Linked DNA regions of Homo sapiens. The protein of the gene in region 1 interacts with the protein of each later gene in a biochemical or structural test. Each region holds a gene or a part of one and is shown on either strand. Other genes may lie near its edges.

What was found.
Region 2: the proteins of EIF3L (region 1) and RRN3 form a complex in vitro, tested with the Homo sapiens proteins (one study listed by BioGRID).

What each region holds. Positions count from the first base shown.
Region 1 is NC_000022.11:37,870,444-37,885,601, forward strand, and holds part of EIF3L (eukaryotic translation initiation factor 3 subunit L), read left to right. Parts: intron 1-3,926; coding exon 3,927-4,081; intron 4,082-5,397; coding exon 5,398-5,568; intron 5,569-7,230; coding exon 7,231-7,728; intron 7,729-15,158. UniProt on the Homo sapiens protein: Component of the eukaryotic translation initiation factor 3 (eIF-3) complex, which is required for several steps in the initiation of protein synthesis.
Region 2 is NC_000016.10:15,087,779-15,103,671, reverse strand, and holds the start of RRN3 (RNA polymerase I-specific transcription initiation factor RRN3), read left to right. Parts: upstream 1-9,399; 5' UTR 9,400-9,438; coding exon 9,439-9,527; intron 9,528-11,057; coding exon 11,058-11,163; intron 11,164-12,300; coding exon 12,301-12,357; intron 12,358-15,893. UniProt on the Homo sapiens protein: Required for efficient transcription initiation by RNA polymerase I (Pol I). Required for the formation of the competent pre-initiation complex (PIC).

The DNA.
Region 1 (15,158 bases):
ACCATGTCTTAGGTGGTGGTCTGTTGACTCTTTGTAGGTGCTTGAGTACAAACAGTAGCAGAGTATTTGTGCTGGGGGCTCTGGGGCTTGGGAGTCCATTGGCCAACAGACTGAACCAGCACATTGAGATTTGCGTTTGTAAACACTTCTGTGTCTCCAGTGCTTTTGTTTAGATAAGCACTTCTCACACGTGTTGGTGTCAGAGCCACTTTACCCTGTTAAAATATTGAGAACCACAAAATGTATCTATTTTAAAAAATTTTTTTCTTTTTTTTTCAGTGAAGAGTGGCATTTTTGCAGATCTCTCTGTCTGGCTGAGATAGCTGGCTTCTCATTTCTGCTTCTGCATTCAATCTGTTGCAATGTGTTCTTTTGTTTGAAGCACATAAAGAAAATCTGGCCCAGGCACTGTGGCTCACACCTGTAATCCCAGCACTTTGGGAGGCTTAGGCAGAAGGATCGCTTGAGTCCAGGAGTTTGAGACCAGCCTGGGCAATATAGTGAGACTTTGTCTCAAAAAAAATGTTTAAATTGACTGAGCATGGTGGGTGGGGTGCCCCTGTAGTCCCAGCTACTCGGGAGGCTGAGGTGGGAGGATTGCTTGAGCCCAGGAAGCAAAGATTGCAGTGAACTGAGATCACACCACTGTACTCTAGCCTGGGCCACAGAGCGAGAACTTGTCTGAAAAAAAAAAAGAAGGAAAATCTGGCTTCACACGGTTATAGGAAGTTTTTTTGTTGTTTGTTTTTGAGACAGGGTGTCGCTGTGTCACCCAGTCTGGTCTTGGACTCCTGGGCTCAAGCAGTCCTGCCTTGGCCTCCCAAAAGTGCCAGGATTATTGGAGAGGATTTTCTTTGATACTACACCATGTAGTAGTATGTATGGGTTGAATATTCCTGACTTGAAAATTTGAAATCTGAAATGCTCCAAAATCTGACTTTTTGAGCACCAACATGACGCCGTAAGTAGAAAATTCTACACCCAACCTCATATGAGCAGTTGCAGTCAGAACTTCGTCTCATGCACAAAAGTATTTAAAAGATTATAATAAAGTTACTTTCAGGCTGTGTGTATAAGACATATATGAAAAATAAATGAATTTTATGTTTAGATTTGGATCCTATCCTTAAGATACTCATTAGGGCCGGGTGCCATGGCTCACGCCTATTATCCTGGCATTTTGGGAGGCTGAGGCGGGCAGATCACCTGAGGTCAGGAGTTCAAGACCATCCTGGCCAACATGGTGAAACCTCATCTCTACTAAAAATACAAAAAATTAGCCGGGCCTGGTGGTGGGCACCTGTAATCCCATCTACTTGGGAGGCTGAGGCAGGAGAATCATTTGAACCAGGGAGGCAGAGGTTGCAGTGAGCCGAGATCGCACCACTGCACTACAGTCTTAGTGACAGAGCGAGACTCTGTCTCGGGGAAAAAAAAAAAAAAAAAAAAGATATCTCATTAGGCATATGCAGATATTAAAAATTGCAAAATCCAAAACACTTCTGATCACAAGCATTTATAGAAGTATACTCACCCTGTACTTCTTTGAAGTAACCAGTGGTAGTTTCATACAGATTAGGTGCAGTGAGGAATCTGAAACTGTATTGGTGAATTTTTCTTTTGTTAACGTTATTCGTCACTTCTGTAATTTGAATGAGTTCCTTACATCCATGTGTGACTTTTTTTTTTTTCCTGAGACAGAATCTGCTCTGTTGCTCAGGCAGAGTGCAATGTCATGATCTCAGTTCACTGCATCCTCTGCCTCCGGGGTTCAAGCGATTCTCCTGTCTCAGCCTCCAGGGATATAGAAAGGAAGGATTACAGGCACACGCCACCACGCCGGGCTGATTTTTGTATTTTTAGTAGAACAGAGTTTGACCATGTTGGCCAGGCTGCTCTTGAACTCCCGAGCTCAAGTGATCTGCCTGCCTCGGCCTCCCAAAGTGCTGGGGTTACATGCATGAGCCACTGCGCCTGGCCATGTGTGATTTCTAAAAAAATATTGGTTCTCTGAGTTATAAAGATCTTCCAAATGTTGACACATTTTATTACATTTTTTTAAAAAGTCAGATTTGTTACTTTTGCCACTGACATCAGGTAAGCATTTATTTGTAAGCTATAGAGCTTGTAGTGGCAGATACAAGTTTTACAAAATTCCATTTTTGCTTAATAGCTTGAATTTTTATTTATTTTGAGATGGGGTCTCACTCTGTCACCCTGGCTGAAGTGCGGTGGCACAATCATGGCTCACTGCATCCTCTACCTGCTGGGCTCAAGTGATCCTCCTACCTCAGCCTCCCAAGTAGCTAGGAACGCAGGTTTGCACCACCATACCTGGCTGATTTTTTTTTCTTTTTTTTTTGGTAGAAACAAGGTCTCACTTTGTTGCCCAGGCCAATCTTGAACTCATGGGATTTCATGTGTGAGCCACTGTGCCCAACCTTTGAACTGTTTTATAGGTAGCAAACACTGTCAGTTATTTTCTTTGAGGTATGACAGGTTTACTTCATTTTTGTGAAAATGTCTGCCCTTTTTTCCTTCTTTTTTTATTTTTATTTTTTTTGAGACAGAGTCTTGCTCTGTAGCCCAGGCTTGAGTGCAGTGGCACAATCTCTGCTCACTGCAACCTCCGCCTCCCAAGTTCAAGCAATTCTCCTGCCTCAGCCTCCCCAATAGCTGGGACTGCAGGTGTGCACCACCACACCCATCTAATTTTTGTATTTTTAGTAGAGACGGGGCTTCACCATGTTGGGCAGGCTGGGCTCAAACTCCTGACCTCAAGTGATACGTCCGCCTCGGCCTCCCAAAATGCTAGGATTACAGGCATGAGCTGCGCTCAGTTGCGTATCAGTTTTTTTTGTTTTTTTTTTTTTGAGGTGGAGTCTCGCTCTGTTGCCCAGGCTGGAGTGCAGTGGCGCAATCTGGGCTCACTGCAAGCTCCGCCTCCCGGGTTCATGCCATTCTCCTGCCTCAGCCTCCCAAGTAGCTGGGCTACAGGCGCCCACCACCATGCCCGGCTAATTTTTTGTATTTTTAGTAGAGACGGGGTTTCACCTAGCCAGGATGGTCTCGATCTCCTGACCTCGTGATCTGCCCACCTCAGCCTCCCAAAGTGCTGGGATTACAGGCGTGAGCCACCGCTCCCGACCTATGTATCAGTTGTTTTTTTCAAGTAAAAATGAAAAAAGAATTTTCTTTCTTTTTTTTGTCTTTTTTTTAGAACAGGGTCTCTCTGTTACCCAGGCCAAAATGCAGTAGCACTTCCATAGATCTCAGTCTCAAAAAACAAACAAACAAACAAAAAACAACTGATACAACAATCTCTGGTTATTCAGATATGGTACCTGGGCTCAAGCACATCCTCCCATCTCGGCCTCTCAAGTTGCTGGGATTAGAGGTCTAAGCCACCAAGCCTGGCTAAGGACTAGTTCTTTTAGTGCAAATGCATGGCAAGAAGCAATGCAGTGACTACTGGTACAATTTTGTGTCGTTGCCTGATTTATGCTTAAGTTGACAGTAATTTTACCCAACATAGTGTTTGCATCATGCAAAATTCAACTCAGTGGGAAGGGCAAGTAACATCTTAGTGTTGTTATTAGGAAAATAGCTTTGACCTCATGTGCTTTCTGAAAGGAGGAGTCTTCGTGGTTGTATTTTACTGATGAGAGGGGCCTTTGCATGTGTTGGGACCAAAAAAAAAATAAGCAAAATGAACTGCCATCCTGTAAGCAAATATTGGTAAATCGAAGATTAGCATAAGATTGGTTTTGCTGTTTCTTGGTATTCCTTTGAAGTTATTCCCCAGTTGTTGAGGGAAGCTTTCAAGGCTGGCAGTAGGTGAGATGCCTACTGAGTAACATTCAGAGGTCAGGTGTGCCTGCCTTTACCTGCCTCCTATCAGTATTCACGGTGTCTGTCTCTTTCAGGTGACCCTGAGAGTGTGGCTGGGGAGTATGGGCGGCACTCCCTCTACAAAATGCTTGGTTACTTCAGCCTGGTCGGGCTTCTCCGCCTGCACTCCCTGTTAGGAGATTACTACCAGGCCATCAAGGTGCTGGAGAACATCGAACTGAACAAGAAGGTGATGCCTATTGCCTCTGGCCCCTCTTGCCAGAGCCAGAATATCTATTTCTAGAGAACCACTCTGATCTCTTAGGACAAATTTCCAGGAGAGGAAAGAGGACTGTTCCCTCAGGCCATTGAAAGTTGAGACTAAAACTGGGCAAACAGCTGTGGTAAAAAGCTAGACCTGGACGATTTTGGTAGTTAACAACAGTTTTTTATTTTGTTTTCAAAATGGAATGATGATGGCAGCTTGCTCTGTCACCAGGCTGGAGTGCAGTGGTGTGATCTCAGCTCATTGCAACCTCCGTCTCCTGGGTTCAAGCGATTCCCCTGCCTCAGCCTCCTGAGTAGCTGGGACTACAGGCATGCGCCACCATGCCCAGCTAATTTTTTTTTTTTTTTTTTTTTTGTATTTTAGTAGAGTTGGGGTTTCACCGTGTTGGCCAAGATGGTCTCGATCTCCTGACCTCGTGATCCGCCTACCTCGGCCTCCCAAAATGCTGGGATTACAGGCGTGAGCCACCATGCCTGGCCCATGGCAGCTCTTTGCTCTTCACATTTTGCTAAAGGATTGAGAAGGCCAGACGCAGTGGCTCACACCTGTAATCCCAGCAGTTTGGGAGGCTGAGGCAGGTGGATTACTTGAGGTCAGGAGTTCGAGACCAGCCTGGCCAACATGGTGAAACCCTGTCTCTGTTGAAAATACAAAAAAAAAAAAAACTAGCTGGGTATGGTGGTGGGCACTTGTAATCCCAGCTACTCAGGAGGCTGAGGTAGGAGAATCACTTGAACCTGGGAGGCAGAGGTTGCAGTGAGCCGAGATCACACCATTGCACTCCAGCCTGGGCAACAGAACAAGACTCTGTCCCAGAAAAAAAAAAAGAATTAAGTAAAGATGTAATTCTAAGATGGTATGTTCATTGATACATGGTTAGCTGTTGTGTTCTTCCTAACCACAGAAAAATATTACAGATAATTTTTATTTGGTGTTTGGCTCATGTGCATGTATGTGTTTCTGTCTTCCCTGTCCAAAAGGACTTAATTGAAAAAGCAAGGAAAAATAACAAAACTGAGATGTATAGCATTTTAGAGCTGAAGGAGATTTTAGGGATTACCTGATCCAGAACCTTCTTGTTTACAGCTAAAAAAATGGATTCCTCAAAACATACAACTTAATTGATGAATAGGAAGATCCGCTCTCAAACTCTGGGACTCCAGAGCTTCCTCTGGATAGTTGAGGGCCTCTGCAGGGAAAACTCTTGGTGTTTCTACCTCTGGTTCTATCTAGGATGAATTGGGACTCATGAATGTTTGTTCTACCTCCTTCTACAGAGTATGTATTCCCGTGTGCCAGAGTGCCAGGTCACCACATACTATTATGTTGGGTTTGCATATTTGATGATGCGTCGTTACCAGGATGCCATCCGGGTCTTCGCCAACATCCTCCTCTACATCCAGAGGACCAAGAGCATGTTCCAGAGGACCACGTACAAGTATGAGATGGTAAGGGGGACTCTGCCTGCCACCAGTGGCCTTTCTAATCAGGGGGATCCTTGGCACCTATGCCAACCATTCTTGGTAAACACCATCCAAAATATTGCACTTTTAAGCCAGGAGTTCAAGACTGTAGAGCGCTCTGTGATTGTGCCTACTAATAGATCACCCAGCTGGAGTGCAGTGACGCAGTCACAGCTCACGTCAGCCTCAACCTCCTGGGATCAGGCGATCATCCTACCTTAGTCTTCCGAATAGCTGGGCTTAAAGGCGCACACAACAACACCGGCTAATTTTTTTTTTTTTTTTTTTTTTTTTTTGAGACGAAGTCTCTGTCACCCAGGCTGGAGTACAGTGGTGCAATCTCAGCTCACTGCAACCTCCGCTTCCTGGGTTCAAGTGATTCTCCAGCCTTAGCCTCCTGAGTAGCTGGGACTACAGACGCGTGCCACCATGTCCAGCTAATTTTTGTATTTTTAGTAGAGATGGGGTTTCACTATTTGGCCAGGCTGGTCTCGAACTCCTGACCTCAGGCGATCCATCCACCTCAGCCTCCCAAAGTGCTGGGATTACAGGCGTGAGCCACCACGCCCAGCCAAAATGAACTTTTAATGGCTAGCATACTCTTAGGAGTTTCTGTTGTGATGCCTGTTACCTCAGATCATTAACATCTTGATGATAAGGACTTGATGATAATATCTTTTGTTTCAGTTATATCCTCCAGCAGTGCCTACATTTATTTATTCAGCATCAGTATGCTGAGTGTTCACTGGGTTCTAAATGTTTTGATATAAGGTGTGGATATTGGTGGGAAGGAGGATGGGTTCAAGAATTGGGAGGAGCTTCCTAGGCAGAGAATATCATGAGCAAAGTGGTTGAGACTTGAAAGTGTGGTGATGCAGCCGCACAATAAACTGTTCTGGCTGGAGGGCAAGTAGGTAGTAGGAATTGGGTTATTAGATTCTGAGAACCTTCATTAACCCAGGTAAAGTATAGTCCTGTGTCATTTGATGCTGCAGATACATTCTGAGAAATGCATCATTTGGTGATTTTGTTGTGTGAACATCATAGAATGTACTTACACAAACCTAGATGGGATAACCTACTACATACCCGGGCTACATGGTATAGCCTATGGCTCCTTGGCTACAAACGTCTAGAACATATTACTGTACTGAATACCATAGGCAGTTGTAACACAAAGGTATTTGTGTATCTAAGATACAGTAAAAATACAGGATTATAATCTTGCAGGATCACCATCCTATATGTGGCCCATGGCCCGTTGTTGACTGAAACGCTGTTGCACGGCACATTACTATTTAGTCTATATTTCTGTCGTCATCAAGGTTGCATCAAAGGTTTTGGGTAACTCGATCCTAACTGTGTAAAAGGATTGACCTGCTAGTGATGTGTGGGACAAACTGGAGAGACTAAGACAGAGGTGCCAGTAAGGAATCCAGAAGATGGCTAAGGAGGATCTGGAGCTAGGATGGAAGTTAGGTAGATCTAGAGGGAGGATTGGAAGAGATGTTGGGGAAGTTCAATGGCTGGTATGAAACAACTGGGTAAGTCAAAGATCTGTGCAGAGAATGGTGAGGCCAGTTGGCAGTGGGGACCTCAGGAAGTCCGTCTCATTTGACCCAGTACCACTCTCCACCCCATCCCCAGATTAACAAGCAGAATGAGCAGATGCATGCGCTGCTGGCCATTGCCCTCACGATGTACCCCATGCGTATTGATGAGAGCATTCACCTCCAGCTGCGGGAGAAATATGGGGACAAGATGTTGCGCATGCAGAAAGGTGACCCACAAGTCTATGAAGAACTTTTCAGTTACTCCTGCCCCAAGTTCCTGTCGCCTGTAGTGCCCAACTATGATAATGTGCACCCCAACTACCACAAAGAGCCCTTCCTGCAGCAGCTGAAGGTGTTTTCTGATGAAGTACAGCAGCAGGCCCAGCTTTCAACCATCCGCAGCTTCCTGAAGCTCTACACCACCATGCCTGTGGCCAAGCTGGCTGGCTTCCTGGACCTCACAGAGCAGGAGTTCCGGATCCAGCTTCTTGTCTTCAAACACAAGATGAAGAACCTCGTGTGGACCAGCGGTATCTCAGCCCTGGATGGTGAATTTCAGTCAGCCTCAGAGGTTGACTTCTACATTGATAAGGTATGCCTGTCCCCTGGGCTTGGGGTCTTGTATTAAGTGTTCAGTATCTTTCATTCACTATTGTGGGCACATGAAGTATATCGGGGAACAAAAAGATTCCTGGCCTTGTGGTGCTGCCACAAGGTGCCAGGTGTGGTGGCTCATGCCAGTAATACTAGTACTTTAGGGGAGGCTGGGGTGGGAGGATCACTCTAGCCCAGGAGTTCAAGACCAGCCTGGGCAACGTAGTGAGACCTTTTCTCTATTAAAAAAAAAAAAAAAAAAACACAAGAGATAAACAATAGATGGTTTTGTTTTGGTTTTTTTTTTGAGATGGAATTTCGCTCTCGTTGCCCAGGCTAGAATGTGATGGCACGATCTCGGCTCACCGCAACCTCCGCCTCCCAGGTTCAAGCCATTCTCCTGCCTCAGCCTCCTGAGTAGCTGGGATTACCGGCATGTGTTACCATGCCCAGCTAATTTTGTATTTTTCGTAGAAATGGGGTTTCTCCATGTTGGTCAGTCTGGTGTCAAACTCCCAACCTCAGGTGATCAGCCAGCCTTGGCCTCCCAAAGTGCTGGGATTACCAACAATAGATGTTATAATTAAACAATAGATGTTATAATTAAACAAACTATGTAGTAAGAAGTTGCCAAGCACTGCAGAGTAAAGGAAGGCAGAGGTGGTGGGAAGCACAGGTTGCAATGTTAAATACGGTGTTCAGACAGGCTTTGTTGAGAAAGTGAAGTTTAAGCTAAGCTAAGACTTGAAGGAGGTGAGGGAGTAGTGTTTTGGTTTTTTTTTTTTTTTTTTTGACAGTCTTGGTCTGTCGCCCAGGCTAGAGTGCAGTGGTGCAATCTCGGCTCCCTGCAACCTCCGCCTCCCAGGTTCAAGCAATTCTCCTGCCTCAGCATCCTGAGTAGCTGGAATTATAAGAGGCCGCCACCACACCTGGCTAATTTTTGTATTTTTAGTAGAGACAGGGTTTTGCCATGTTGGCCAGGCTAGTCTCAAACTCCTGACCTGAAGCGATCCATCTGGTGGAGAGTTCTTAATAGCTCACCAAAGGCTGGACACGGTGGCTCATGCCTGTAATCCCAGCACTTTGGGAGGCCGAGATGGACAGATCATGGGGTCAAGAGATCAAGACCATCCTAGCCAACATGGTGAAACCCCATCTCTACTAAAAATAAATTAGCTGGGCATGGTGGCGCATACCTGTAGTCCCAGCTACCCGGGAGGCTGAGGCAGGAGAATCACTTGAACCCAGGAGGCGGAGGTTGCAGTGAGCTGAGATCGCTGCACTGCACTGTAGCCTGGCAACAGAGCGACACTCCGTCTCAAAAAAAAAAAAAATAGCTCACCAGATATCTGGAGGAAGAGCCTTCCAGGCAGAGGAACAGTTAGAGCAAAGGCCCCGAAGAGGAGTGAGGCCAATAAGTTTAAGGGACAGTTGTAGTATGCCCGAGTAGCCTGAGAAAGGAGGCTGTGAAGATGAGATTGGAGAAAGGGGGATGGTGCTTTGTATACTGTTGGAGTACTTTACAAGTGGGAAGCCATTGTCCTGCTGCCTTCTTTATTTTTTTATTTTTAGTTAGCAATAATCACACCTCACATAACCCTCATTGGCCATACTGCCACTGCACAAAGCTTTTTTTTTTTTTTTGAGATGGAGTGTCATTCTGTCGTCCAGGCTGGAGTGCAGTGGCACGATCTTGGCTCACTGCAACCTCTGCCTCCCGGGTTCATGCGATTCTCTTGCCTCAGCCTCCTGAGTAGCTGGGATTACAGGCTCACACCACCACACCCAGCTAATATTTTGTGTATTTTTAGTAGAGACAGGGTTTCACTATGTTGACCAGACTGGTCTCCAACTCCTGACCTTGTGATCCGCCCGCCTCGGCCTCCCAGAGTGCTAGGATTACAGGCGTGAGCCATCGCGCCCGGTATTATTTTATTTTTATTTTATTTTATTTTATTTTGAGATGTCTCGCTCTGTCGCCTAGGCTGGAGTGCAGTGGCGCGATCTCAGCTCACTGTAAGCTTCACCTCCCAGGTTCACGCCATTCTCCTGCCTCAGCCTCCCGAGTAGCTGGGACTACAGACACCCGCCACCACACCTGGCTAATTTTTTGTATTTTTTAGTAGAGACGGGGTTTCACTGTGTTAGCCAGGATGGTCTCAATCTCCTGACCTCGTGATCCACCCACCTCGGCCTACCAAAGTGCTGAGATTACAGGCGTGAGCCACTGCATCCGGCTCTCTTTTTTGAGACAAGGTCTCACTCTGGTTGCCCAGGCTGGAGTGCAGTGGTGTGATCTCAGCTCACTGCAGCCTCAACTTCCTGGGTTCAGGTGATTGTCCTACCTCATCCTCCCAAGTAGCTGAGATTACAGGCGCACGTCACCACGACTGGCTAATTTTTGGTATTTTTAGTAGAGATGGGGTTTGGCCATGTTGCCCAGCCTGGTCTCGAACTCTGATATGTGCCACTGTTCCCAGCCGATTTTAAGTTTTTACTTTATAGAAACAGGGTCTCACTTTGTTGCCCAGGCTAGTTTCAAGTGATCCTCCTACCTTGGCCTCCCAAAATGCTGGGATTACTGGTGTGAGCCACTGCGCCTGTCCTGTCCTGATGTCTAACATCTTGGATTAGTGCTGCCTGTTTGTGAACTTTATATAATGGAATTACACAGTATGTACTCTTTAAGTCTGGCTTCTTTTGCTCAACGTTATAATTGAGTGAGTCACCGTCCATTGTGTGTAGCAGTGATTCCTTCATGTTTATTGTTCTGTGATAGTCCAGCATCTGCTGTTGTTATTGTACTGCAGTTTATCCATTCTCCCATTGATTAACGTTTGGATGGTTTGTATATTACAAAAAATACAAGTAAGGTTTTTACAGAGTGGCTAGTAATACATTTATATATGCCTATGTATGCCTCAAGTTCTTTCCAGAAGGATACACAAGCAACATAGCAGTAGCTTCCTCTCAGGAGGGGAGGTGGGTTGAAGAACAGTGTTAGTTTTCACTGGCACTTTTAAGTTCAAGCTGGACATTTTAATGTCTGATGAGATTTTCATTTTTATTTATTTATTTAGAGACAGAGTCTCATTGTATCACTCAGGCTGTAGTGCAGTGATGTGATCTTGGCTCACTGCCACCTCCGCCTCCTGGGTTCAAGCAATCCTTCTGTCTCAGCCTCCTGATTAGCTGGGACTACAGGCGCTGATGAGCTGATGAGGTTTTTAAAAGAATTGTTTTCTTTTTTTTTAGACTGAGTCTTGCTCTTGTTGCACAGGCTGGAGTGCAATGGCACAATCTTGGCTCACCGGAACCTCTGCCTCCCGGGTTCAGGCGATTTTCCTGCCTCAGCCTCCCGAGTAGCTGGGATGTACAGGGATGCGCCACCATGCCCAGCTAATTTTGTATTTTTAGTAGAGACAGGGTTTCTCCGTCTTGGTCAGGCTGGTCTCGAACTCCCGCCCTCAGGTGATCTGCCCGCCTCGGCCTCCCAAAGTGCTGGGGTTACAGACATGAGCCACCACACACGGCCGTCAGCCCAGGTTTTCTAAGATCAGCAAATGTCCATAGGGCAGAGGGGGTCTTCTGTGCTTTTCTTAGAATGGTTTCTTTTTTCCCAAAATGTTCTGTTACTATCTTGTCAGCTCTTTGATGCTGTAAGTTTTTTTCTAATATCCTGCATTTTTAATTGTTTTTGAAAGCATTTTGGGCCAGGTACAGTGGCTTATAGCTATAATCCCAATACTCTGGAAGGACGAGGCAGGAGAATTGCTTGAGCCCAGGAGTTCAAGACCAACCTGGGCAACAAACCAAGACCCTGTCTCTACTTTTTAAAAAGAGAAAAAGCATGCTGGGCATGATGGCTCACGCCTGTAATCCCAGCACTTTGGGAGGCCAAGGCGGGTGGATCACCTGAGGTCAGGAGATCAAGACCATCCTGGCCAGTATGGTGAAACCCTGTCTCTACTAAAAATATAAAAATTAGCCAGGCATGGTGGCACATGCCTGTAATCCCAGTAACTTGGGAGGCTGAGACAGGAGACTCACTTGAGCCCAAGAGACAGAGGTTGCAGTGAGCTGAGATCAAGCCACCGCATTCCAGCCTTTGTGACAGAGATGAGACTGCATCTTGAAAAAAAGAGAAAAAGCATTTTGGTCTAAATGTATTGTTGGAAATAGCACTTTTTGAGCAGTTCTTAAAAATACATAATTTTAGGCTGAGTGCAGTGGCTCATACCTGTAATCCTATCACTTTGGGAGGCCAAGGTGGGTAGATCATCAGAGGTCAGGAGTTCAAGACCTGCCTGTGCAACATGGTGAAACCCCGTCTCTACTAAAAATATTTAAAAAATTAGCCGGGCATGGTGGTGCGTTCCTGTAATCCCAGCTACTCGGGAGGCTGAGGCACGAGAATCACCTGAACCTGGGAAGCAGAAGCTGCAGTGAGCCGAGATTGTGCCACTGCACTCCAGCCTGGGCAACAGAGTGAGAGACTGTCTCAAAAAAAGAAAAAAACATAATTTTTATACATAATTTGCATGATAAGCCGGGCGCGTTGGTTCACGCAAGTAATCCCAGCACTTTGGGAGGCCGAGCTAGGCGGAACACGAGGTCAGGAGATCAAGACCGTCCTGGCCAATATGGTGAACCCCATCTCTACTAAAAATACAAAAATTAGCTGGGCGTGGTGGCGGGTGCCTGTAGTCCCAGCTACTTGGGAGGCTGAGGCAGGAGACTTGCTTGAACCTAGGAGGCGGAGGTTGCAGTAAGCCAAGATTGCACCACTGCACTCCAGCCTGGGCAACAGAGCGAGACTCCACTTCAAAAAAATAAAAAAAGGCTGGGCATGGTGGCTCACGCCTGTAATCCCAACACTTTGAGAGGCGAAGGTGGGCGGATCACTTGAGGTCAGGAGATCAAGACCAGCCTGACCAACATGAAGAAACCCCATCTCTACTAAAAATACAAAATTAGCCAGACGTGGCAGCGCATGCCTGTAATCTCAGCTACTCCGGAGGCTGAGGCAGGAGAATTGCTTGAACCCGGGAGGTGGAGGTTGCAGTGAGCCAAGATCGTGCCATTGCACTCCAGCCTGGGCAACAAGAGTGAAACTCCGTCTCAAAAAAAAAAAAAAAAAAAAAACTTGCATGATCCCAGCACTTTGGGAGGCTGAGGCAGGCAGATCACGAGGTCAGGAGATCAAGACCATCCTGGCTAACACGGTGAAACCCTGTCTCTACTAAAAATACAAAAAATTAACCGGGCATGGTGGTGGGCGCCTGTGGTCCCAGCTACTCGGGAGGCTGAGGCAGGAGAATGGTGTGAACCCGGGAGGCGGAGCTTGCAGTAAGCAGAGCTCGCGCCACTGCACTCCAGCCTGGGCGACAGAGCGAGACTCCATCTCAAAAAAAAAAATTGCAGGATATAAACTTCACCATTTTAAAATGTGCAATTTGGCCAGGTGTGATGCTTTACACCTATAATCCCAGCACTTTGGGAGGCCAAGGCTGGCAGATCACTTGAGACCAGGAGTTCAAGACCAGCCTGGCCAACATGGTGAAACCCCATCTGTACTAAAAATACACAAATTAGCTGAGTGTGGGGGCGCATGCCTGTAATACCAGCTACTTGGGAGGCTGAGGCACAAGAATCGCTTTAGCCTAGGAGGTGGAGGTTGCAGTGAGCCAAGATCATGCCACTGCACTCCAGCCTGAGTGACAGAGTGAGACCCTGTCTCCATAAATAAATAGAATGAATGAATGAATGAATGAAGAATTCAGTGGTTATTAGTATGTTCACAGTGTTTTGCAACCATCTCCACTGTCTAATTCCAAAACATTTCTGTCCCCCCAAAAAGAAACTCCCTACCCACTAGCAGTCACTCGCAGTTCCCCAGTTCCCCCTTTCTGCCATCCCCTAGCAAACCCCTAATCTGCTTTGGTCTCTCTGCATTTGACATTTCAGATAAATGGAATCATGTAATATATGGACTTTTGTGTTTGGGTCCTTTCACTGAGCATGTCTTCAAGTTTCATCCATATTATAGCATGTGTCAGTACATTCCTTTTATAGCTGAATAATATCCCATGTATTAATGTACTGCATTTTGTTTATCCATTTGTTGTTGCACATTTGGGGTTTTTGGTTTTTGGGGGTTTTTTGTTCCTTTTTTCACTTTTTGGCTTATGAATAGTGCTGCTGTGAATATTCATCTAGAAGTTATTGTGTGAACATATGTTTTTAATTTTCAGATATATATCTAGTTGTGGAATTTCTAGGTCAGTTTGGGTAGTTTGTTTTTGAAAGTTCATTTTGCTTTAAAATAAATACTCTCATTTCATTTTTATGGCTTCTGGAAGACTTGGTTTTTGCCATAAGTTAGCTAGCCCGATACAAACAGATTTGCCAAAAGTAATAACACGTCAGTAGTGGAAGTTTTCCAGTGTTTTAAATCATGCTTTTATAAATCAAAGAAAACTGAGCCAGGCTTCGTAGCGTGTACTTGTAGTCCCAGCTATGGGAGAGAGTCCCTTATAGCCCCTGCCTTAGGACGCTGAGGCAGGAGGATGGCTTGAGCCCAGGCGTTTGAGGCTGCAGTGACCTAAGATCTTACCACTGCAGTGCAGCCTGGGTAACAAAGTGAGACCCTGCCTCTAAAAATAAATAAATATATAAATAAATAAAAATAAAGAAAACTTTCTCCCTTGCCAGGATCATGTCAAGCCTTTTTTTTTTTTTTTTTTTTTTTTTTTTTTAAGATAGCATCTTAATCCTCCAGTTGTCCAGGCTGGAGTGCAGTGGCAAAATCACAGCTCACTGCAGCCTCAACTCCCGGGGGCTCAGGTGATCCTCCTATCTCAGCTTCTCAAGTAGCTGGGACTACAGGACTGCACCACCACATCTTGCTAATTTTTGTATTTTTTGTAGAGATGGGGTTTTACCATGTTGCCCAGCCTGGTCTCAAATACAAACTCTTGGGCTCGGGTAGTCTGCCCACCTCTGCCTCCCAAAGTGCTGGGATTGCAGGTGTGAGCCACCATGCCTGGCCTAGTTTTTTCTCAATACCTGACATATATACGTTCTTTGGCAATTATAGTAGCCTCCTGCATTCCTCTGTCACCTCTTAATTACCAGCCTAGCTATTCTCAACTAATCTGGGTAGTTTAACAAAACATTTCTCCTAAGAATTGGCTATTTGATTATTATTTAATTGCATGTTTTACTGTTATTCCTCTGTTGCTGGTTCAGGTTTGTCTTTGGCAAAGTGCTTCTTTTTTTTTTCCTTTTTGACTCTTCATTCTTAACTTGAAAGAAATCCTATCAGAGATTTAGAACGTTCTTAGATCTTAACCTAGGGGATATAGAAAATTTTAAAGTAAAATGGTGTTCAAAATATTTTCAGCTAAAAACAAAACTTAAAGATTG
Region 2 (15,893 bases), on another chromosome or scaffold:
ATTAGCTGGGCGTGATGGTGCATGCCTGTAGTCCCAGCCACTTGGGAGGCTGAGGCATGAGAATCGCTTGAACCCAGGAGGCAGAGGTTGTAGTGAGCCGAGATCACATCAGCACACTCTAGCCTGGGTGACAGAGCGAGACTCTGACTCAAAAAATAAATAAAATAAATATCACTTACATTAGATATACCCAAGGGGTGGTCTATAGAGACTTGGAAGCAGTGGTTATTGCCACAGGGGCACGGAAGTCATCTGGCTATGCCAGGGTGCCCAGGGGATACTCGGGGTGGGTGGCATGGTGCTGCTGGGGACTCACCGCACAGGACGCTCTGATTGACGCACTGCCAGGAGTAGCGCTCTGTCTTGGGGCTGCAGCCGGCCTCCTCAGCTCGAGTGTAACAACAGTCGTGGCCATGGCAGCACCTGCGGATGTCACATGGGCAGGACAGCAGGTGGGTGAAGCTCTCTCCTGGCCCTCCTCTCTTGCCAGGACCATGGGTGACTGAAGACCCCCAGGGAGGCACAGCATCCTCTTATCTAAGATTTTTTTTTTTTTTTTTTTAAGAGACAGGGTCTTTCTCTGTCGCCCAGGCTGGACTGCAGAGGCACAATCATAGCTCACGGCAGCCTTGAACTCCTGGGCTCAAGCGATCCTCCCACTTCAGCGTCCCAAGTAGCTGAGACTACAGGCACACGCCAGCATGCCCGGCTGGTTTTTTAATTTGTATTTCCTTTGAGACAGCGTATCTCTCTGTTGCTCAGGCTGGAGTGCAATGGCTCAATCAGCTCACTTTAGCCTTGAACTTCCGGGCTCAAGTGATACTGCCACCTCAACCTCCCAAGTCTGCTACTACAGGAACACAAACTCCTTTTTTAAATTTTTTGTGGATATGGGGTCTCACTATGTTGCCTAGGCTGGTCTCGAACTCCCAGGCTCAAGCAGTCCTCCTACCTCAGCCTCACCAAATGCTGGGATTACAGGTGGGAGCTACTGTACACCTGGCCTTATCTAAGCTGTTTCCCTGAAAATCCCCGTCTTGGGTAATGATTCCTTTGGCCCCACCATGCCCTGTCCTGCCTTCCTGGCTGTGCCCAAGCTTGGTCCCTGCCTGCCTGCCTGCCTCCCTCTCTGGGTCTCGAGCTCCTGTGACACATGACTCCTCTCTCTTCCTGGAGTGATCCAAGCCCTGCCACTTCCTGACTTTGCCCACACTGTACCCTCTGCCTGGGGCAACTTCATGTCTGCCCATTGACCCTTAGGCCTCAGCCCAGGCACAAGCCCCTGCCTCCGGAGGTCATCCAGGCCTCACCAGGCTACACCCTCTCGTAAAATTGGATTTCCTCCCTTCAGGGCAGGTTTATAATGAAATCCTCCTCAGAGGCCAGGTGCGGTGACACCCATCTGTAATCCCAGCACTTTGGGAGGCTGAGGTGGGAGGATCACTTGAGGCCAGGGGGTCGAGACCAGCCTGGGCAACATAAGAGAGACTCTTGTCTCTATAACAAATTTAAAAATTAGCTCACCAGGCCAGGCTCAGTGGCTCATGCCTGTAATCCCAACACTTTGAGAGGCCGAGGCAGGTGGATCACAAGGTCAGGCGTTCAAGAGCAGCCTGACCAACATGGCGAAACCCTGTCTCTACCAAAAATACAAAATTAGCCAGGCATGGTGGCACGCACCTGTAATCCCAGCTACTCGGGAGGCTGAGGCAGGAGAATCGCTTGAACCCAGGAGGTGGAGGTTGCGGTGAGCCAAGATCACGCCATTGCAGTCCAGCCTGAGCAACAGAGCAAGACTCTGTCTCGAGACAATAAAAACACACAAAAAATTAACTCGCCATGATGGCACATGCCTATAGTCCTAGCTACTTGGGAGGCTGAGGTGGGAGGATTCCCTTCAGCCCAGGAGTTTGAGGCTGCAGTGAGCCACTATGATTGTGCCACTGCACTCTAACCTGGGCAAAAGCGAGACCCCAGGCTAGAGTGCATGATTTTGGGTCACTGCAACCTCCACCTCCCAGGTTCAAGTGATTCCCCTGCCTCAGCCTCTTGAGTACCTGGGACTACAGGCATGTGCCACCACGCCTGGGTAATTTTTGTATTTTTAGTAGAGACAGGGTTTAGTAGAGACCATGGTGAAACCCCGTCTCTATTAAACAAATCTCTACTAACCCCATCTCTACAAAAAACAGCTGGGCATGGTAGTGCACACCTGTAATTCCAGCTACTTGGGAGGCTGAGGCACGACAATCATTTGCATCTTGGAGGCAGAGTTTGCAGTGAGCCGAGATCGTGCCACTGCAGTCCGTCCTGGGTGAAAGAGCGAGACTCCGTCTCAAAAAACAAACAAACAAACAAAAAAGACCGTGCCTATCTGTCTATCTCCCTCATAGGTCAGTTTCCACCTGAGTGTAACCACATCAAGTATCCTAGTATATTTCATATTTACAGGAAAATAAATGGGCAAATACTGTCATTTACGGAGAACCTGCCCTGTCCTGTACACCGTGACATATTTTGTGGTTTGTGGTTATGTGCTCTAATCCTTACGATAGCTCTAAAATAGCTCAAAAAGTTATTCCCATTTTGTACATAAGAAAATTGAAGTTCTGGAAACATAAGGCAATTGCCCAAAGTAATAGAGTAAATTACAAAGCTAGGATTTCTTTCTTTCTTCCATTAATTAATTAACTATTTGAGATAGCGTCCCTGTTGCAGGATGCAGTGGGGAGATCATAGCTCACTGCAGTCTCGACCTCCTGGGCTCAATTGATCCTCACGTCTCAGCCTCCTGAGTAGCCGGGACTACAGGTGCACACCAACACTATGGCTGATTTTTGTATTTTTCTGTAGAGATCTGCCTAGGCTAGGCAGAGATTCTGGCTAGGCTGGTCTCAAGCTCCTGGCTCAAGCAATTCTCCTGCCTCACCCTCCCATATAGCTGGGACCACAGGTGTGTGCCACCACTCCCAGCTGACTTGTTTATACCAGTGGTTCTTAATTGGAAGAGTTTTGTACCCCAGGGACATTTGGCAACATCTGGAGATATTTTTGAATGTTACTGTGGGGAGGAGAGGAGTGCTACTGTCATCTACTGGGTAGAGGCCAGGGATGCTGCTGAACATCCCACAGTTCACAGAACAGCCTCCTCCCCACCCAACAGAGAAGTATCTGGTTGGCCCAAAATCTCAATGATGCCAAATCTAAGAAACTGCTTTGTATTTCTCTGAGATACTGGGATGAGGAACGCTCTAAATTAGTTGTCTTTGAGGATAATGTATGTATACATACACATATATGTGTATACATGTATATAACTAAAGATATATAGTTGAGATCTTGCATTTGTGTTAATGAATGTAGTTTTTATAAAGATAATTGACTCATACAATAATTGTTGACTCTTTGGAAAGGAAAAAGGACAAATGAGATACATGCTATTGGTTTTGTTATTTAGAAATTTTTCGTGTGGATCCGCCCTACCATTCAGCCATTTGCAAACCATTAGTTGAGCATAACTTAATCCCTTCTAGTTCACAGCAAAGATTCATCAAAAGCCATTTGGTATACTGTCACCTCATCTCTCTAACAGTGTTGATTAGATTACAGGAGGGTTACAGGAGGGCACCTTATCCAAATTGGCCAATGATAAATTCTTTTTTGGTACCTTACTATATATTTGTATCCTCAGAACAAATTCTCCTTTTCTGCTTAAGCTGGCTTGACTTTGTTTCTTTCACTAGCAAGCTAAGAGGCTTTGGCCAACAGAACTACTCTAGGGGTAGCTGTAAAATTTATCTCTAAGGAAAGGCTGCTGTTTTGAAATAACAGTTTAATGGGTCTTCTGGGTATATGATGATAGTAAAGCAAAATTTTGTTCTGGAATGAAGAAGCTGATTACATTGTTGTATTACAAACAATATATTACTCAGTGAAGTGAAAGGCCACACTGTGGGCAGGGTGGTGACTTTGCAGATAGCATGTTAATCCTTGCATGCTTTTTGTTGTTTCTCTTTTTGGAGGGGGAGGGTCTTAATTTTCTTTATCCCTCCCCCACCCCCTTTATTTTCTCTGGGGAAGGCAAGACTGGATAAGGAGGCTTTTATCCTGCCAAGATGAGTTGGCCCACAGGACAATTTGACTGAATAGAGGCTCCACAAAGAACGGACATGGTCAAAGAATTACAACAGAAATTATGCATTTAGTTTTAAGGTTTTCTTTTTCTCCTTTTTTTTTTTTTTTTTTTTTTTTTGAGACCAAGTCTTGCTCTGTTGCCCAGGCTGGAGTGCAGTGTTGCGATCTTGGCTCACTGCAACCTCTGCCTCCTGGGTTCAAGCAATTCTCCAGCCTCAGCCTCTCAAGTAGCTGGGATTACAGGCACCTGCCACCACACCTGCTAATTCGTATTTTTAGTAGAGATGGGGTTTCACCATGTTGGCCCAGCTGGTCTTGAACTCCTGATCTCAAGTGAGCCACCTGCCTCAGCCTCCCAAAGTACAGGGATTACAGGCATGAGCCACAGGGCCCGGCCAGTATTTTTCTTGTATAATGCTCAGAGTTTCCTTTAAATCTTTTTAAAAACTTGGCAGCCTTAGTCTTAGCTGTGCTTTGGGAAAATAAGGAGCTGCACTCAAGCTTAAGAAGATATTGCTGGAAGTGTACATTGGCACAGCCTTCAAAAAGCTTCTTGGTGCCCTCCTGTAACCCAATCGACACTGGCTAGAGAGATGAGGTCATATTGCATCAAATGGCTTCCAGTGATTCTTTGCTGTGGACAAGAAAGTTGCTCTTTTTTTTTGAGAGGGAGTTTTGATGCCTAGGCTGGAGTGCAATGGCAGTGATCTCGGCTCACTGCAACCTCTGCCTCCCAGGTTCAAGTGATTCTCCTGCCTCAGCCTCCCAAGTAGCTGGGATTACAGGCATGTGCCACCATGCCAGGCTAATTTTGTATTTTTAGTAGAGACAGGGTTTTTCCATGTTGGTCAGGCTGGTCTCGAACTCCCGACCTCAGGTGATCCACCCACCTTGGCCTCCAAAAGTGCTGGGATTACAGGCGTGAGCCACCATGCCCGGCCAAGAAGGTCACTCTTTATGCTCAACAAATGTATTGCAAATGGCTGAAAGGTAGGGAGGATCCAGATGAACAATTTCTAAATAGAAAAACTAATAGTAGCCAGACACGATGGCTCACACCTGTAATCCCAGCATTTTAGGAGGTCAAGGTAGGCAGATCACCTGAGGTCAGGCATTTGAGACCAGCCTGGGCAACATGGAGAAACCCCATCTCTACTAAAAATACAAAAATTAGCCAGGTGTGGTGGCGGGCACATGTAGTCCCAGCTACTCAGGAGGCTGAGGCAGGAGAATCGCTTGAACCCGGGAGGCAGAGGTTGCAGTGAGCTGAGCTTGTGCCACTGTACCCCAGCCTGGGCAACAGAGTGAGACTCTGTCTCAAAAAAAAAAAAAAAAAATCATAGATATCCAATTTGTTCCTTTCTCCTTTCCTAAAAGCTTTTGGTGCCCCCTCCAACCCAACAGTTCCACCCTAGAAAAACACTTGTACACATACATCAGGACATGATACAAGAATATTCAGGCTGGTCGCGGTGGCTCATGCCTATAATCTCAGCATTTTGGGAGGCCGAGGTGGGAGGACGGCGGGAGATCATGCCACTGCACTCCAGCCTGGGCAACAGAGGGAGACTCCGTCTCAAAAAAAAAAAAAAAAAAAAAGCATAATGTTGAAAACAAACAGCAGTATAATACAGCATGGAGATAACTTTATAAAATGCAAAGACAAATAAAAGTAAATATAGTGCATTGTTTAGGAGTATAAATATGATAATTATTCAAAGAAAACTAAAATGACTTTTAAAAATCATGATGGTGACTATTTTTGGGAGGAAAGCAGGTAGAAGGTGGGATCCGAGAGCAGCACAGAGTAAGTGTCAATTGTCCTAGTTAATGTTCGGCTTCTTAAATTGGGCGATATGTTCACAGGTGTTCATTATGTTCTTTTTTTTTTTTTTGGAGACGGAGTCTCACTCTGTCACCCAGGCTGGGGTGCAGTGGCGCGATCTCGGCTCACTGCAAGCTCCACCTCTCGGGTTCATGCCATTCTCCTGCCTCAGCTTCCCAAGTAGCTGGGATTACAAGTGCCTGCCACCACGCCCGGCACATTTTTTTTTTTTTTTTTTTTTTTTGTATTTTTAGTAGAGACGGGGTTTCACCGCATTAGCCAGGATGGTCTCGATCTCCTGACCTCGTGATCCGCCTGCCTCGGCCTCCCAAAGTGCTGGGATTACAGGCAGGAGCCGCTGTGTCTGGCCCATTATGTTCTTATAACTTACATTAACATATTATTTTGTACATATCAAGCTTTTTTTCCCTTTTTTTTTTTAAGAGATGAGATTTTGCTTTGTCACCCAGGCCAGAGAGTGTCGTGGTGTAGTCATAGCTCACTGCAGCTTCCAACTCCTGGGTTCAAGTGATTCTCCCACCTCTGTCTCCCAAATAATTGGAACTACAGGCACGTGCCACCATGCCTGGGTAAGTTTTTTAAAAGTGTTATTTGTAGAGACGGAGTCTGGCTGTGTTGCCTGGGCTGGTCTCAAACTCCTGGCTTCAAGTTATCCTCCTGCCTCAGCCTCCCAAAGCTCTGGCATTACAGGTGTGAGTCACTGCACCCAGACTCAGACTTTTTTTAAGGGAAAGAATGGGAGTGTAGGTGGGGAGACACACTTTGGGAGGCCAAGGTGGGAGGATCACTTGGGCCGGGGGTTCAAGACCAGCCTGGGCAACAAAGTGAGACCTCGTATTTACCAAAAATACAAAAAATTAGCTGGGCTTGGTGGTGTGGGTTCGGGCGGCTGAGGTGAGAGGATTGCATAAGCTGTAGGAGCCCGAGGCTGCAACGAGCCATGATCGCGCCATTGCGCTCTAACTTGGGCTAGACAATGAGATCCTGTCTCAAACCAAAACAAAACAAAACAGATAATTGTCAGATTGCTGTTTTGCTATTGTTGCTTTTTGTTTTTGCTTTGCTTTCCCTTGGAAGTGAAGAAGAGATTCTCATTTAAACAGTTATCTTGAAGTATCTTTGTGAGCTACGGTGCAATTATTTCCTCTGTCCTTGAGACACAGATGATTCCTGTCCAACATTCCCAAGGAACTCAGTAAGGACCAAATAGAGACTCAGGAAAGACAGTTACTGATTTTACACTGTTGCAAAACAGAGCTATGGTTTATGTTTAACAAACTGCTGGCGGGGCGTGGTGGCTCATGCCTGTAATCCCAGCACTTTGGGATGCCAAGGCGGGCGGATCACTTGAGGTCAAGAGTTTGAGACCAGCCTGGCCAACATGGTGAAACCCTGTCTCTACTAAAAATACAAAAATTAGCTGGGCATGGTGGCGCATGCCTGTAATCCTAGCTACTGGGGAGGCTGAGGCACAAGAATCGCTTGAACCTGGGAAGCAGAGGATGCAGTGAGCCAAGATCATGACACTGTACTCCAGCCTGGGTGACAGAGCGAGACTCTGTCTCAAAAAAAAAACAAAAAACAAAAAAACCAAATTGCTGTATTTTATGTTGTGAAATAGGGTCTTGCTGTGTTGTCCAGGCTGGAGTGCAGGGGTACAATCACAGCTCACTGCAGCCTTGACCTCCAGGGCTCAAGTGATCCTCCGTCCTCAGTTTTCAAGTAGCTGGGACTACAGGTATGCACCACCATATGTTGCCCAGGCTGGTCTTGAACTCCTGGAGAGAGATACATATAAACACACACACACACACACACACACACACACACCTTTTTTTTTTTTGAGACACAGTTTCACTCGTCACCCAGGCTGGAGTGCAATGGCACGATCTTGGCTCACTGCAACCTCTGCCTCCTGGGTTCAAACTATTCTCCTGCCTCGGCCTCCCAAGTAGCTGGGATTACAGGCACTGCCACCATGCCTGGCTAATTTTGTATTTTTAGTAGAGACAGGGTTTTGTCATGTTGGCCAGGCTGGTCTCAAACTTCTGGCCTCAGGTGATCCACTTGCCTCGGCCTCCCAAAGTGTTGGGATAACAGGCGTGAGCCACTGCGCCGGGCCCATACATATGCATTTTTAAAAACTTATTTATTTATTTCGAGACAGGGTCTCACTCTGTTGCCCAAGCAGGAGTGCAGTGGTGCTATCTCCCAGGCTCAAGCAATCCTCAGCCTCCCGAGTAGCTGGGACTACAGGTGTGTGCCACCACACCCAGATAATTTTTATTATTTTTATTTTTTAAATTTTTTGTAGAGATGGAGTTTCACCGTGTCACCCAGGCTGGATATTTTTGTATTTTTGATAGGCCTGTACAGTTTCCAAAGTTGCAACCTTTTCCCCTCCCTGAGAGTAGGGGCAGCCCCTGCTCTCCCTCTACATCCTCCACAGTCCCGAGGTTTTGGCCTCTGTTTCCTCCGTTTCCTATGCTTGGAACGCCAGTGGCTCTTTTGTTGGTCTGGCTGACTCCTGTTCCTCTTTTAAAAATTTAAGTTTGGCCGGGCGTGGTGGCTCATGCTTGTAATCCCAGCACTTTGGGAGGCCGAGGCGGGCGGATGACCTGAGGTCATGAGTTCGAGACCAGCCTGGCCAACACAGTGCAACCCCGTCTCCACTAAAAATACGAAAATTAGCCGGGTGTGGTGGCATGCGCCTGTAATCCCAGCTACTTGGGAGGCTGAGGCACGAGAATTGCTGGAACTGGGGAGGCGGAGGTTGCAGTGAGCTGAGATCACACCACTGCACTCCACCTGGGCAAAAGGGCAAGACTCGGCCTCAAAAGAAAATAAATAAATAAATAAATAAAGTCAAGGGGGTAACACCTCTTCGTAACTCTCCTGTTGTTTCTCATGCCAGCATCACCATAGCCTTGAGGCTCTGAGGTAGGTCACTTCGTCGAGCTCGTTTCCGTGAGGATAACGTTATCTTGGGTGTCTGTGAGACTGCTGCACTGAGTATAGAGCCCAGGCTCCTGGGTCAGCCGGGTTCGAATCCCCTTTCCTCCGTGAAGATCTGGGTCAGTCACAAGTGCTTCAGTTTCTTCGATTTGACTGAGGGAGGCTTTGACTCCAAAAAATTAACACTTGAGTGTACCCGGCCACAGCTTAGCACATCCAGGGTGTTTCCACCCTTTCTTCGGGATCCTCAGGGCTGGATGGAGCCGGTCCTTCCCGTCTCTCCTTATACTCACGCACTAGCGCTGGCTGGAACAAGTCCTCCAAGTAGAACGAGGAGCGGGTTTCAGCGGCGCTCTAGCCCGCCGAGAGCATACGCCCTCCCCACGCGGGGCCGCTGATTGGCTGAAGGTTGCGCTGGCACGCGCAACTTCCGGGACAGAGGCTGTGGCTGGAAGGAGCTGGGCATCCGGCCTGAGGCGCAGCGGTCGCGTTAGTTCGGCCCAATGGCGGCACCGCTGCTTCACACGCGTTTGCCGGGAGATGCGGCCGCTTCGTCCTCTGCAGTTAAGAAGCTGGGCGCGTCGAGGACTGGGTAAGATTCAGGCCGCTTCCTTCTGCGTATCTGGGACGAAAGCTCAGGACGGCGCTTAGAGGAGCGGATTGAAAGGATGTGGGACAAAGCTCATGGCGTGTGATAGGAGCACGGGGTGGAGGGTCATCTCACGTTCACAGAAATGAGCTCATTCCTCCTAACTGGGTAATAGACATGGGTGGGGCCTGGAAAAGTGACTATGTTCTCTGTTCTGGAGGCCCCCTTTCCCGACTGTGTCTCTTCGTGATTTCCCAGGCCTGGGTACTGCCTTCTGCGCCTTGACCCCTCTTCCTTCCCTCTTCTTCGTCCAAATTTGGAAGGGATTTCCCTGGGCTATGTGGGTTATCAGCCGAACGTCGTCACTCATGGCAAATTGAATATTACATCTTTTTTGTTTGGAATTTGTTTCGACACACGTATTTGTTTCGCAGTCTTTATTTTGCTCCACTTTTAAAATCCCTAACCCCCGTAGCACTCTTGGCGTTTAACTTTCAGAGTCATTAGGATGCTATGTTTTTTCATTAATTTACTACGTGTAAGTGAAGCAAACCTTGTAAAACAATTAGCGTAATATGATTCATAATAATTATCGAGCTCCTGCTTACTGTGTTAAACACTGGGGACAGTGGTTTATCCAAAGACACTAATGTCCCTGCTTTCTACAGAGCTTACAGCATAGGGGGGAAAGGCAGTACATAGGCCAATAAATAAACGAACACGATGATTTCAGTTATACAACAAGGTAATGGGGGAGGGAGAAGGGAGAGAAGGAGCTTTTGAGATTTCTCATTGGGAAGACATCTGTCATTTGAGCTTCCACTTGAATGAAGACAAAAATCTAGGCCGGGCGCGGTTGCTCACGCCTGTAATCCCAGCACTTTGGGAGGCCGAGGCGGGCGGATCATCTGAAGTCAGGAGTTGGAGACCAGCCTGGCCAACGTGCGAAACCTCGTCTCTACTGAAAATACAAAAATCAGCCGGGCATGGTGGCAGGTGCCTGTAATCCCAGCTACTCAGGAGGCTGAGGCAGGATAATTGCTTGAACCCGGGAGATGGAGGTTGCAGTTAAGCCAAGATCACACCACTGCACTCCAGCCTGGGCAGCAGAGCAAGACTCCATCTCAAAAAAAAAAATCCAGCCACGTAGAGATTTGGGAAAAGAGTATTTCCAATAGAGTGAACAGTAAGTGAAATGAAAAACAGCTTGGCTTGTTTGAAGAGCAGAAAAGACGTTATGGCTGTAGTAAAACAAGTTGTTGGAGATGAGGTGAGAGAGGTAGGCAGGGGCCAGATTAATGTAGGATCTTAAAGACCACACTGAGAGATTTGGATTTTTACTGTAAGTGCAGTGGGAAGACAGTTATTGGTTGCTGAGCAAAGGAAGGATTGTTGGTTAAGAGTGGAAGCAGGGAGACCAGTAAAGAGGCCTTAACAATAGTTCCACTGAATTATGTTGGTTCAATAAATGTTGGCTATTATAATTTTTATTATTTTCATGAACTTAATAGCTTGTTAATCTTGGTTCCACAGGATTTCAAATATGCGTGCATTAGAGAATGACTTTTTCAATTCTCCCCCAAGAAAAACTGTTCGGTTTGGTGGAACTGTGACAGAAGTCTTGCTGAAGTACAAAAAGGTAAGGGGAGATAATGTGTGAGGTTTGCTTTTGGTTAGGTCAGAATACAACTATTGCTGTTATACTAAAGACCAATAGAAATAGCAAGATTAATTAAGATACCAGTTGAAATCAAATATTTAATAATAGCATGATGCCGTCAGTGCAAAATTAGAGTAATAGTGTCCTTTTTTTCCCCCACCTTGGCCCATTTCACAGGTAATAATGAGAGAGTAATAATGTCTTTACTGAGGTTTCACCTCTTCAAATGCTTTATTTACGAAGCATCTTTTAACTTTAGCAAGTGCCAGAATTAAAAACAATTACACCATTTTATTTATTTATTTATTTGTGCTGGAGTCTTCCTCTGTCACCCAGGCTGGAGTGCAGTGGCGTGACCTCGGCTCACTGCATCCTCCACCTCCCAGGTTCAAGCAATTCTCCTGCCTCAGTCTTCCGAATAGGTGGGGTTACAGGCACACACCACCACACCTGGCTAATTTTTTTATTTTTTTAGTAGAGGCAGGGTTTCACCATGTTGGCCAGGCTGGTCTCGAACTCCTGACCTTGTGATCCACCCGCCTTGGCCTCCCAAAGTGCTGGGATTACAGACGTGAGCCACCATGCCTGGCCTACAGCATTTTATTTTTTGAGGAACTTACCTAAGCATTACTTTGGGACAGTAAACCAGTTCTCTGAGTAGGGATTTTTGTTTTTGTGGTAGTTTAGAAGCATTTCTACTGTATCTCAGCAGTAGAGGGAAAATGTTAAGTAACCATATGTTTATATGTAATATCCATTTGTATCCATATTTGAGTGAATACTTTTTTAGATCCTCCTGAATTAGATCATTATAGCTGGCTGTTTTTTTCCCTCATGCTTTTTGAGAATTCGCAGGAGTATCAACTATTATATTCAAATGTCAATACAGAAGTATAGCTAAATGTAGTTTATCATTTTCCTTTTTCCAAGCCCTCTGGCTGCACTAACATGAGTGTTTAAATTTTTGTAGTCATGATTTTATAATCCGCAATTGACATGTGAAAGTTAGTGTTCCTTTTATAATTTCATCTGATGTTAAAGTACGGTTAAAAGTCTTGCTGTTGATACTAAACAGGAAACAAAAGCATAACTTAATTCTTTCCCCTTCTTGTTAAGGGTGAAACAAATGACTTTGAGTTGTTGAAGAACCAGCTGTTAGATCCAGACATAAAGGTAATTAATTTTGTGTTTGATCATTAGCAAAATTATTGCCACTGTATACAGACATAGTTTGCTCTTTGGGTCCCATTCTGTCCTCCAGAACTTGCTCTCTCCATGGTCCTCCCTTATTTTAATCTGGTGGTTCTCAACCAGGGACAGTTTTACCCCCTAGAAGACATTTGGTGATGGCTGCAGATATTTTTGTCACAACTGGGAGGAAAGGGTGCTACTGGCATCTAGTGGGTGAATGACAGAGATGCTGCTAAACATCTCACAGTGCACAGGACAGCCTCCCAGAACCAAGAGTGATCCAGCCCCAAATGACAACAGTGTTGAGGCTGGGAAACCCTGCTCTAATGCTTCCTTTCTATTAGATTACTACCTCTTTCCTCCATGCTGCATGCAACTCTCTTGTCTCTTTAAAGCTAAAACAAAGCAAAAAAAAAAAAAAAACAAACCACTGATTCAGCATTTCCAGGTTCGAGATACACCTATCATGTAGTAAAAGCTGAATGCATTTTGTTTCACCATTCTTCCTTTACTGCCCAGTTTTGAAGAGAATGGTTTATTACTATGGCAGTGGTAGTTAGATTGCCTGGAATGAAATTCCAATTTTATTATCCAGTGTGTGATCTTGAGCAAATTGTTTTAACCTCTCTGCCTCTATTTTCCACTGTGTGAAACCAAGAAAACAATAGAGATTTAAAAAATATGGAGTGTTTTGTTTTTAAGAGATGTGGTCTTGCTGTGTTGCTCTGGCTATTCACAGGTGTGATCATAGTGCACTACAGCCTTGAACTCCTGGCCTCAAATGATCCTTTCTCTTCAGCCTTCTAAAAAGCTGGGACTATAGGTGCATGCCATGTTTAAAGTGCCTGGCTTTAAACATGGAAATACTTAACAAGGATTCAATGAGCTAATATGCAAGAAGCACTTAGAACAGTCTCTGACTCAAAGTAAGGGCAATAATTGTCATCTGTTGTTTTTGTTCCAGCTGACTGCGCTGTATCATTTCTCACTCACATTTAAGTCCACTGTTCTTATCACTGTAGTAATTACCCTGACAGGTTACCCATGTTTTTTTTTTACATGCTGATTTCAGTGGACTTTTTTTTTAAGACAAAGTCTCCTTCTTACCACGCAGGCTGGAGTGCAGTGGTGTGATCTGGGCTCACTGCAACCTTTGCCTCCTGGGTTCAAGCAATTCTCCTGCCTCAGCCTCCCAAATAGCTGAGATTACAGGCACCCGCCACCATGCCTGGTTAATTTTTTTTATTTTTAGTAGAAACGGGGTTTCACCATGTTGGCCAGGCTGGTCTTGAACTCCTGACCTCAGGTGACCTGCCCGCCTTGGCCTCCCAAAGTGCTGGGATTACAAGTGTGAGCCACTGAGCCCAGCCTCAGTGGACTTACTTTTTTAAGCCTTGTATTCCTTGTATCAGCCGACACTGTTGGCCACCCACTTCTTAAAACTTCAGCGTTTCTGATCCTCCTGTCTCCTGATCCTTTAATCTGTTTTTTTTTTTTTTTTTTTTTTTTTGCTCTGTCGCCCAGGCTGGAGTGCAGTGGCGCAATCTTGGCTCACTGCAAGCTCCGCCTCCCGGGTTCAAGCGATTCTCCTGCCTCAGCCTCCCAAGTAGCTGAGACTACACTCGCCCGCCACCACCGCCAGCTAATTTTTTGTATTTTTAGTAGAGGTGGGGTTTCACCATGTTAGCCAGGATGGTCTCGATCTTCTGACCTCGTGATCCGCCCGCCTTGGCCTCCCAAAGTGCTGGGATTAGAGGCGTGAGTAACCACGCCCGGCCAGTGATCCTTTAATCGCTAGTATTTCTTGATAGTTTCTTGATCTTAAATTTGGTGTTGATTGGGCTTCAAAACTTGACTCTTTTCTCACTCTGTTGATTCTTCTGTGTGATCTCCTCATCTCCCTTCATGGCTTTGAAATCTACCTGTGTCCTAATATATTTGTGTCTGTAGCCAAGATTGCTCTTGTGGGCTCCAGACTTATTTCATTTTCGTTTTTGGGGACGGGCAGAACAGAGTCTTGCTCTGTCACCTAGGCTGTAGTGTAGTGGGATGATCTTGGCTCACTGCAACCTCTGCCTCCTGGGTTCAAGCCATCCTCCCACCTCAGCCTCCCGAGTAGCTGTGCCACCATGCCCAGCTAATTTTTTTGTATTTTCAGTAGATTTGGGGTTTCACCATGCTGGCCAGGCTGCTCTCGAACTCCTGACCTCAAGTGATCCACCCGCCTCAGCCTCCCAAAGTGCTGGGATTATAGACGTGAGCCACTCCACCCGGCCTAGACTTGTTTCTTAACTGTCTGTTAGATGCATTTACCCAGAATCATCATAGATGCTCCAAACTTAGCATGTCCACTCTTGGCTGGGCTCCATCTTTCATGGAGCTTTCCCTGGTTCTCTCTAAGCACATGGTTGTTCCTTCATTGAGTCCATTTCCCACACTTCCAGATCTCTCTAGTTACAGATCTGGTTTACAAGGCCCCCCATGGTCTATTTGGTGCTTCTTTGTTCCCCAGATTTATTATCTGTTGGCTTGGTCACTATACATGCCTGCCATACTGAACGTTTTTCAGTTTTCTGAAAACATACTTTTCCTTCTGTAAGAAGCAGAACTTCCAGAAAAGACTCAACTGTGTTACTGTTTAAAGACAGCTGAAGCATCACTTTCTCTTTAAAGCTTTTCCTGACCCCTGCCTTCTTTCCCAGATACAAAGGGACATTTTCTTTGTGTTCCACTGTATTTTGTATCAGCAGTTCTCATTCTTGGTATTTTGACATACCAAGAATTGCACTAGTTGTGTGGAGTGTTGCAAGTAGAACTTTTTTCCATCTTGAGACAGGGTCTTGCTCTGTCACCCGGGCTGGAGTGTAATGGGCCCGATCATGGCTCACTGCAGCCTCAACCTCCCAGGCTCAAGCAATCTTCCCACCTCAGGCTCCCGAGCATCTGGGACCACAAGCATGTGCTACCATGCCTGGCTAATTTTTCTGGAGATGAGGTCTCCCCATGTTGCCCAGGCTGGTCTCAAATTCCTGGGCTCAAGCAGTCTCCTCCTGCCTTGGCCTCCCAAAAGTGCTGGGATTACAGGCATGAGCCACTGTTCCTGCCTGCTAGTAGAAATAATAATAGTTCAGTACTAAAGCATCAAAGTCTGCAACTGATTTACTTTTTTTTTTTCTTTTTGAGACGGAGTTTTGCTCTTGTTGCCCAGGCTGGAGTGCAGTGGCATGATCTTGGCTCACTGCAACCTCTGCCTCCGAGTTTTTTAAGCAATTCTCCTGCCTCAGCCTCCCGAGTAGCTGGGATTACGGGCATGCACCACCACGCCCAGCTAATTTTGTATTTTTAGTAGAGACGGGGTTTCTCCATGTTGGTTAGGCTCATCTCGAACTCCCAACCTCAGGTGATCCACCCACCTCGGCCTCCCAAAGTGTTGGGATTACAGACATGAGCTACCACGCCCAGCCTGATTTACTTTTAAAAATGGTACAGTTTAAATGTTATCCTTATAGTTTTGTTGC